2 linked regions of the Homo sapiens genome follow. The protein of the gene in region 1 interacts with the protein of each later gene in a pairwise test. Each region holds a gene or a part of one and is shown on either strand. Other genes may lie near its edges. The genes, in order: CASP2 and RAI1.

Region 1 (3,161 bases):
TGTGGGAATCTCCCAGACTTGTTTCCTGTGCCCATCATCTCTGCCTTTGAGTGTGGGACTCCAGGCCAGCTCCTTTTCTGTGAAGCCCTTTGCCTGTAGAGCCAGCCTTGGTTGGACCTATTGCCAGGAATGTTTCAGCTGCAGTTGAAGAGCCTGACAAGTGAAGTTGTAAACACAGTGTGGTTATGGGGAGAGGGCATATAAATTCCCCATATTTGTGTTCAGTTCCAGCTTTTGTAGATGGCACTTTAGTGATTGCTTTTATTACATTAGTTAAGATGTCTGAGAGACCATCTCCTATCTTTTATTTCATTCATATCCTCCGCCCTTTTTGTCCTAGAGTGAGAGTTTGGAAGGTGTCCAAATTTAATGTAGACATTATCTTTTGGCTCTGAAGAAGCAAACATGACTAGAGACGCACCTTGCTGCAGTGTCCAGAAGCGGCCTGTGCGTTCCCTTCAGTACTGCAGCGCCACCCAGTGGAAGGACACTCTTGGCTCGTTTGGGCTCAAGGCACCGCAGCCTGTCAGCCAACATTGCCTTGCATTTGTACCTTATTGATCTTTGCCCATGGAAGTCTCAAAGATCTTTCGTTGGTTGTTTCTCTGAGCTTTGTTACTGAAATGAGCCTCGTGGGGAGCATCAGAGAAGGCCAGGAAGAATGGTGTGTTTCCCTAGACTCTGTAACCACCTCTCTGTCTTTTTCCTTCCTGAGAAACGTCCATCTCTCTCCCTTACTATTCCCACTTTCATTCAATCAACCTGCACTTCATATCTAGATTTCTAGAAAAGCTTCCTAGCTTATCTCCCTGCTTCATATCTCTCCCTTCTTTACCTTCATTTCATCCTGTTGGCTGCTGCCACCAAATCTGTCTAGAATCCTGCTTTACAGGATCATGTAAATGCTCAAAGATGTAATGTAGTTCTTTGTTCCTGCTTTCTCTTTCAGTATTAAACTCTCCTTTGATATTATGTGGCTTTTATTTCAGTGCCATACATGTTATTGTTTTCAACCTAGAAACCTTTATCCCTGCTTATCTGAAACTTCCCAACTTCCCTGTTCTTTAAGACTTTTTTTTTTTTTTTTTTTTTTTTTGAGACAGAGTCTCGCTCTGTCGCCCAGGCTGGAGGGCAGTGGCACGATCTCAGCTCACTGCAAGCTCCAACTCCCGGGTTCACGCCATTCTCCTGCCTCAGCCTTCCAAGTAGCTGGGACTACAGGTGCCCGCCACCGTGCCCGGCTAATTTTTTTGTATTTTTAGTAGAGACAGGGTTTCACCATGTTAGCCGGGATGGTCTTGATCTCCTGACCTCATGATCCACCCACCTCAGCCTCCCAAAGTGTTGGGATTACAGGCGTGAGCCACTGCGCCCGGGCAAGACCTTTTTTTAAAAAAAAAAAAAAAAAAACTTCCATTCTTTCTTCCTCCAGTCTGTTCTCACATAACAGAGTAGTTTTGGTTTTTAATTTTTTTTGGTTGTTTGCTGTTTTTTGTTTTTTAAGGTGAGTTCTCACTATGTTTCTCAGACTGGTCTCGAACTCCTGGCCTCAAGCCATCTTCCCGCCTCAGCCTCTCAAATAGCTGGGCTTACAGGCATGAGCCACCACACCTGGCCAGGATTTGGTTGTTTAAATATAAATCTGATCACCCCCCTGCTTAGAACCCTTCTGCTTTCTATTACCCCTCATTTAAAATGTAAACTCTTCACCTTGGTTTATGAGAACTGGTTCTTGCCTTCCCCTTGAACCTCATTAAATGGTGATTTCTTGCTAAGCTCCAGCCCGAGTGGTCTCCTCTCAGCTTCTAATTTTGTGCTCTTTCCTGCCCTTTTCCTGGGCCTTCTCAGCTCTCCACCCCCACCACTCTTGACTCAGGTGGTGTCCTTCTTCCTCAAGTCTTGACAATTCCCGGGCCCTTCAGTCCCTGAGCAGTCTACTTCTGTGTCTGTCACCACATCTTGTCTTTTCCCCTCATTGCATTTATTGCAGTTTATATATATGCTACTTTTACTTGTTCATTTCTGTCTCCCCTACCAGGCTGTAAATGAGGGCAGAAACCTTGTTTGTTTTATTCACCATCATGTACCAAGTGCTTGGCACATAGTGGGCCTTCATTAAATGTTTGTTGAATAAAAGAGGGAAGAAGGCAAGCCAACCTTAGCTACAATCCTACCTTTTGATAAAATGTTCCTTTTGACAATATACACGGATTATTATTTGTACTTTGTTTTTCCATGTGTTTTGCTTTTATCCACTGGCATTTTTAGCTCCTTGAAGACATATCATGTGTGAGATAACTTCCTTCACATCTCCCATGGTCCCTAGCAAAATGCTAGGCCTGTAGTAGTCAAGGTGCTCAATAAATATTTGTTTGGGTGGTTTGTGAGCCTTGCTGCCAAGTCCTGCCTTTGGGTCGACATAGTATGGAAGTATTTGAGAGAGAGAACCTTTCCACTCCCACTGCCAGGATTTTGTATTGCCATCGGGTGCCAAATAAATGCTCATATTTATTACTGATGTGTGCTCAATATCTGTTTCTGTAGATACTCAGTCCTCTGAAGCCCACAGATTTCGTTTCCTTAGCCCCTTACACTGCAGCATTCCTTACCACCTCACAAGGCATACCCAGACCTGAAAACCCTTCTTATTTTGCTGCTGTGATCCTGTAAATATATGCAGGTGTGGGCCCATCTCAGTTTGCGTAGTCCTGGGATTTCTCACAGATGAAATGGAAGTTATTAGCAAACAGTGCTGGTTCTTGATTATTTAGACTATGAGATGTAGGCTGCCATAACAGATTGGGCTGGAATAGAAGGATGGGAGAGTGAAGATAGTAAAATTCCATTTCTTACCTGGTTGCATTTAAGGTCTTCTAGAGTGGGCATAGATTGTAAGAGAATTCTAGTGCAGCATAGAAGAGATCAAAGCAATGAATTTGTGTAAGTTGGGATATTTTGGGGGTGCATTGTATCTAAAGGATATGCCTGAGAGGTAAGTGCAGGTGCAGATGGGCCATGGAATTTGGCAAGAGATGGAATGTTCTGTAGGAACTTTGTACAGAAGTTTTGGTAGGAAACAAAACTTTTTTTTTTAAATACGGGATTTCACCATGTTGGCCAGGCTGGTCTCTAACTCCTGGCCTCAAGTGATCAGCCCGCTT
Region 2 (3,815 bases), on another chromosome or scaffold:
GCCCCTCTGAGCAGCCCCTGCTCCTGACAGTTGCCGTGGCATTGCCTGGCCAAACCAAGGTCCCGGTGGGGGCCCACTGTGTTTGCCACCCACGCCTCCTAGTGTGTGTCTTGGGCACCTGCTTCCCACTGCCCATGGGGATGGCTGGAGACCTTCTCCACGCCCAGACGCCCTGCCCACCTCACTCCACCCTCCACCTCAGAGGAAGGCTGGCCCCGACAGGACTCCTGCAGGTTCCTGGTGCCGCGGGCCTTGCTTACCCAGCAGATGGTGGCCTTGGGCCTCTTCCCTCTCCCCTTCCCAGTTAGTGATTTTTTGCCTCTCTCCTGCTTTCTGTCTCTCTCTGTCTCTCTCTCTCTCTCTCTCTCTCTCTCTCTCTCTCTCTCTCTCTCTCATTACTGGCTCCTTCCCAGCGCCTTGAAACAGGTTCAAGTCTCTCCCGTCATCAAAAAATAATAACCCTCAGATCACCAGCCCCAGCTGGCTGCCACCTCCCCTGCTTCACAGCCCCATTCCTGAAAGCCTTGTCCCCACGGCATCCTCGGTCCCGCAGCCTCACCAGGGGCTCCCCGACACTCACGTCCCACCAGGCTGAGATCAGGTCGTCTCCACATCCCCTGCAGCCAGCACTGGCCGGCCGAAGGGAGGAGGGGTCAGCCCCGAGCACCGACCACCCCATCCTGTCCCTGGCCCATGGGTGTCTTAACCGCCCATGCACACACAAGGTCCTGCTGGACTGAGGAGACAGTGTGTGTTGGAGAGGCGCTAGCTTCCCTACACCACGCGGGGGCTGGAACTTGCCAGCCCAGCCCATGCCTGTCTGCTGTGCCATGCTCCAGAAATGGCCTGACAGCCTGCGCAACTAGGGCTGCCCCGGGAAGGTCGGAACCAGGAACACCCTGCCAGACAGATGGGACATCCTGGGAGAATGGGCAGAGTCTGGGGCTTCCCAGGGTCACTTTTGGCTCACCACCCCTTCCTGCCTCAGTGGCTTGGGGGCGCCATGCTCCTTGGAGTGAGACCCTGGTTCAAATCCCAGCTCTGCCGAGGGCTGGTTCCATAGCTCCAGGCGAGTCACGCATGCTCTGAGAACTCCACAATGTCAAACCCCGTTAGCAGGATTGTGGGGTTCTGTGGATCATGTGGGACCTGCCTGGCATGTGGAAGGGGCTTGGGGTGCAGCTGTGTCCCTGGCCCCAGCACTGCCACACCCCTCGGTACCTTGACCTCACTTTTGCGCTCTGGAGGGCAGAACCTCTGAGCCAGCTCTCAGGGATACCTTTTTTCCTCGATGGCCTTTTCTGGGAACTGCCCTCGCCTGCTATCTCTGAGCCCTGCCTGCCCTTCCCCCAAAGCCATCATAGACCCCTACCTCCTATCCAGATGGAGCCTGGCCATGGAATGCTTGGGGTGAGAGGGACCCATAGCGGGCTCCGGGCATTGTTAGGGGGCTAGGTGGTGTCTGCAGAGGCCCCACCTGTGGCAGGGTTTACATGCCGCCACCCCTGCCCTCCTCTTGGGTAGCTGGGGTCAGAAGGGCCTGAGGCCTCACTCTCTCTGCATCTTAGTTTCTTCACATCTAAAATGCTATTCATATGCCTGCCTGAGGGTGGTTGGGGCCTCCGTGCAGTAAGTGGAGAGAAGCCTTCAGCCAGAGGACCCCCATATGCTTAAACATCCAGACACCAAGGGCCACTCACAGACAGCAGCCGGCTTGTGTTTCGTCATCCCTTTTGGGTCAGGAACTGGGGACGCTGGACTCCAGATCTCCAGGAGGCCATCCCAGACTAGGCGGGAAGGAGGCCTCAGCCCTGAGCTGAAAACCTGAAATTCTAGAATAAACCCCAGGCCCCACTCCCAGCATGGGCAGCGGGGAGGGGAGTGTTCTGACATTTCTCAGCTGCTGTGGTTGGGATGGTGCGCCCACCCTGAGCATGTGGGGTCCTGTGGGCCCCTACTCCAGCCTGGAGGCAGCTGCAGGGGTCAGAGACCAGCCTGGAGCCCTCGGGCAGGTTACTCAGCCTCAGCTCTCATTGGTAACCCAGGTAAAATAACAGTAATCCCATCATAAGGTTGCTGTGGGCATGAGGCTTCCAGCCATGCCTGGCACATAGGAAGCTATTGTCGTTTGTTTCACTGGCTTCGCACTTGGGCAGAGGCCGCCGCCCTCTCTGCTGCCTTCTCTACCTCACCCCCCGCCCCCAGCACGGTGGCACTGTGGCTCTGGCGCCTGGTGACTTCTCCCTCCCCGGCCTCAGGTTTGCTTCACTCTTCCAAGGGCCTTCTTGGTGTGACTGTCCTGTCCTGGCCACGTCCACTCCAAGCAGCTGGTCCAGGTGTGGGGCAGCCCCCAAGCTCAGCAGAGGACAGTTTTGAGACTTAGAGGAGGACGGCATCAGATTTACATGAAGTCAGCCATCTCAAGGGATTACCACGTCACCGCCTCCTCTCACAGGTCTGAGAGCTGGTCCCCTGGAGGGTGCAGGTCTCATCCTAGGTAGAACAGTCCCAGCCTAGCTTCAAAGTGCTCCTGCTGCCAGAAAGGGTAGAAAACCATGCTGAATGCCTTCACTGTTGCCTGGAATGGGAGCCTCAGTTTCACCATCTGTAAAGTGAGATTAATGAAAGGGACCCACAGAGGGCTGTTAGAGCCAGTAGGCGGCCAGGCGCGGTGGCTCACGCCTGTAATCCCAGCACTTTGGGAGGCTGAGGTGGGCGGATCACGAGGTCAGGAGATCGAGACCATCCTGGCTAACACGGAGAAACCCCGTCTCTACTAAAAATACAAAAAATTAGCCTGGCGTGGTGGCGGGCACCTGTAGTCCCAGCTACTGGGGAGGCTGAGGCAGGAGAATGGCGTGAACCCGGGAGGCGGAGCTTGCAGTGAGCCAAGATTGTGCCACTGCTCTCTAGCCTGGGCAACAGAGCAAGACTCCATCTCAAAAGCAAAAGAAAAAAGAGCCAGTAGGCCAGGCGCTATGTCTTACACCTGTAATCCCAGCACTTTGGGAGGCCTAGGCAGGCAGATCACCTGAGGTCGGGAGTTCGAGACCAGCCTGGCCGACACAGTGAAACTCCGTCTCTACTAAAAATACAAAAATTAGCTGGGCATGGCAGCACATGCCTGTAATCCCAGCTACTCGGGAGGCTAAGGCAGGAGAATCACTTGAACACAGGAGGCAGCGGTTGCCGTGAGCGGAGATCACACCATTGCACTCCAGCCCCGGGGGGACAGAGTGAAATTCTGTCTCAAAAAAAAAAAAAAAAAAAAAAAGCAAGCCAGTGGGCAAGGACACACACCACGCCCAGCACACCAGAAGCATGCAGCAGATGCTGGCTGGTAGCCACAGCCATGGTAGTAACTGGCATCACTGGCCCAAGGGGGTCTCCCTACCCAATGTACCAGCCCAGAGGGTGCTAAATGACCCATGTTTGTGGGCATGTGTACCCCAGTGCTGAACCTCCTTCTGGTAGATTTTCAAGCACCATTTTGGAGAAGGGAGGCAGGGACCACAGGGGGCCAGCCAGCCTGTACAGGTTTTTTGTGTTTTTTTTGTTTGTTTGTTTGTTTGTTTTTTGAGGCAGGGTCTCACTCTTGCCCAGGCTGGAGTACAGGCAGTGGCGTCATCTCGGCTCACTGCAGCCTCAACCTCCCAGGCTGCAGCAATCCTCCCACCTCACCTTCCTGAGTAGCTGGGACTACAGGCACACACCACCAACCCTCACTATTTTTTGTAGAGACAGTTTCACCATGTTGCCCAGGCTGGTATCAAACTCCTGGACTCAGGCGATCCTCCCACCTTGGCCTCCCAGAG

What was found.
Region 2: the proteins of CASP2 (region 1) and RAI1 interact in a two-hybrid assay, tested with the Homo sapiens proteins (one large-scale study listed by BioGRID and IntAct).

Annotation. Positions count from the first base shown.
Region 1 is NC_000007.14:143,305,179-143,308,339, forward strand, and holds the end of CASP2 (caspase-2 isoform 1 preproprotein), read left to right. Parts: 3' UTR 1-2,518; downstream 2,519-3,161. UniProt on the Homo sapiens protein: Is a regulator of the cascade of caspases responsible for apoptosis execution. Might function by either activating some proteins required for cell death or inactivating proteins necessary for cell survival.
Region 2 is NC_000017.11:17,799,835-17,803,649, forward strand, and holds part of RAI1 (retinoic acid-induced protein 1), read left to right. Parts: intron 1-3,815. UniProt on the Homo sapiens protein: Transcriptional regulator of the circadian clock components: CLOCK, BMAL1, BMAL2, PER1/3, CRY1/2, NR1D1/2 and RORA/C. Positively regulates the transcriptional activity of CLOCK a core component of the circadian clock.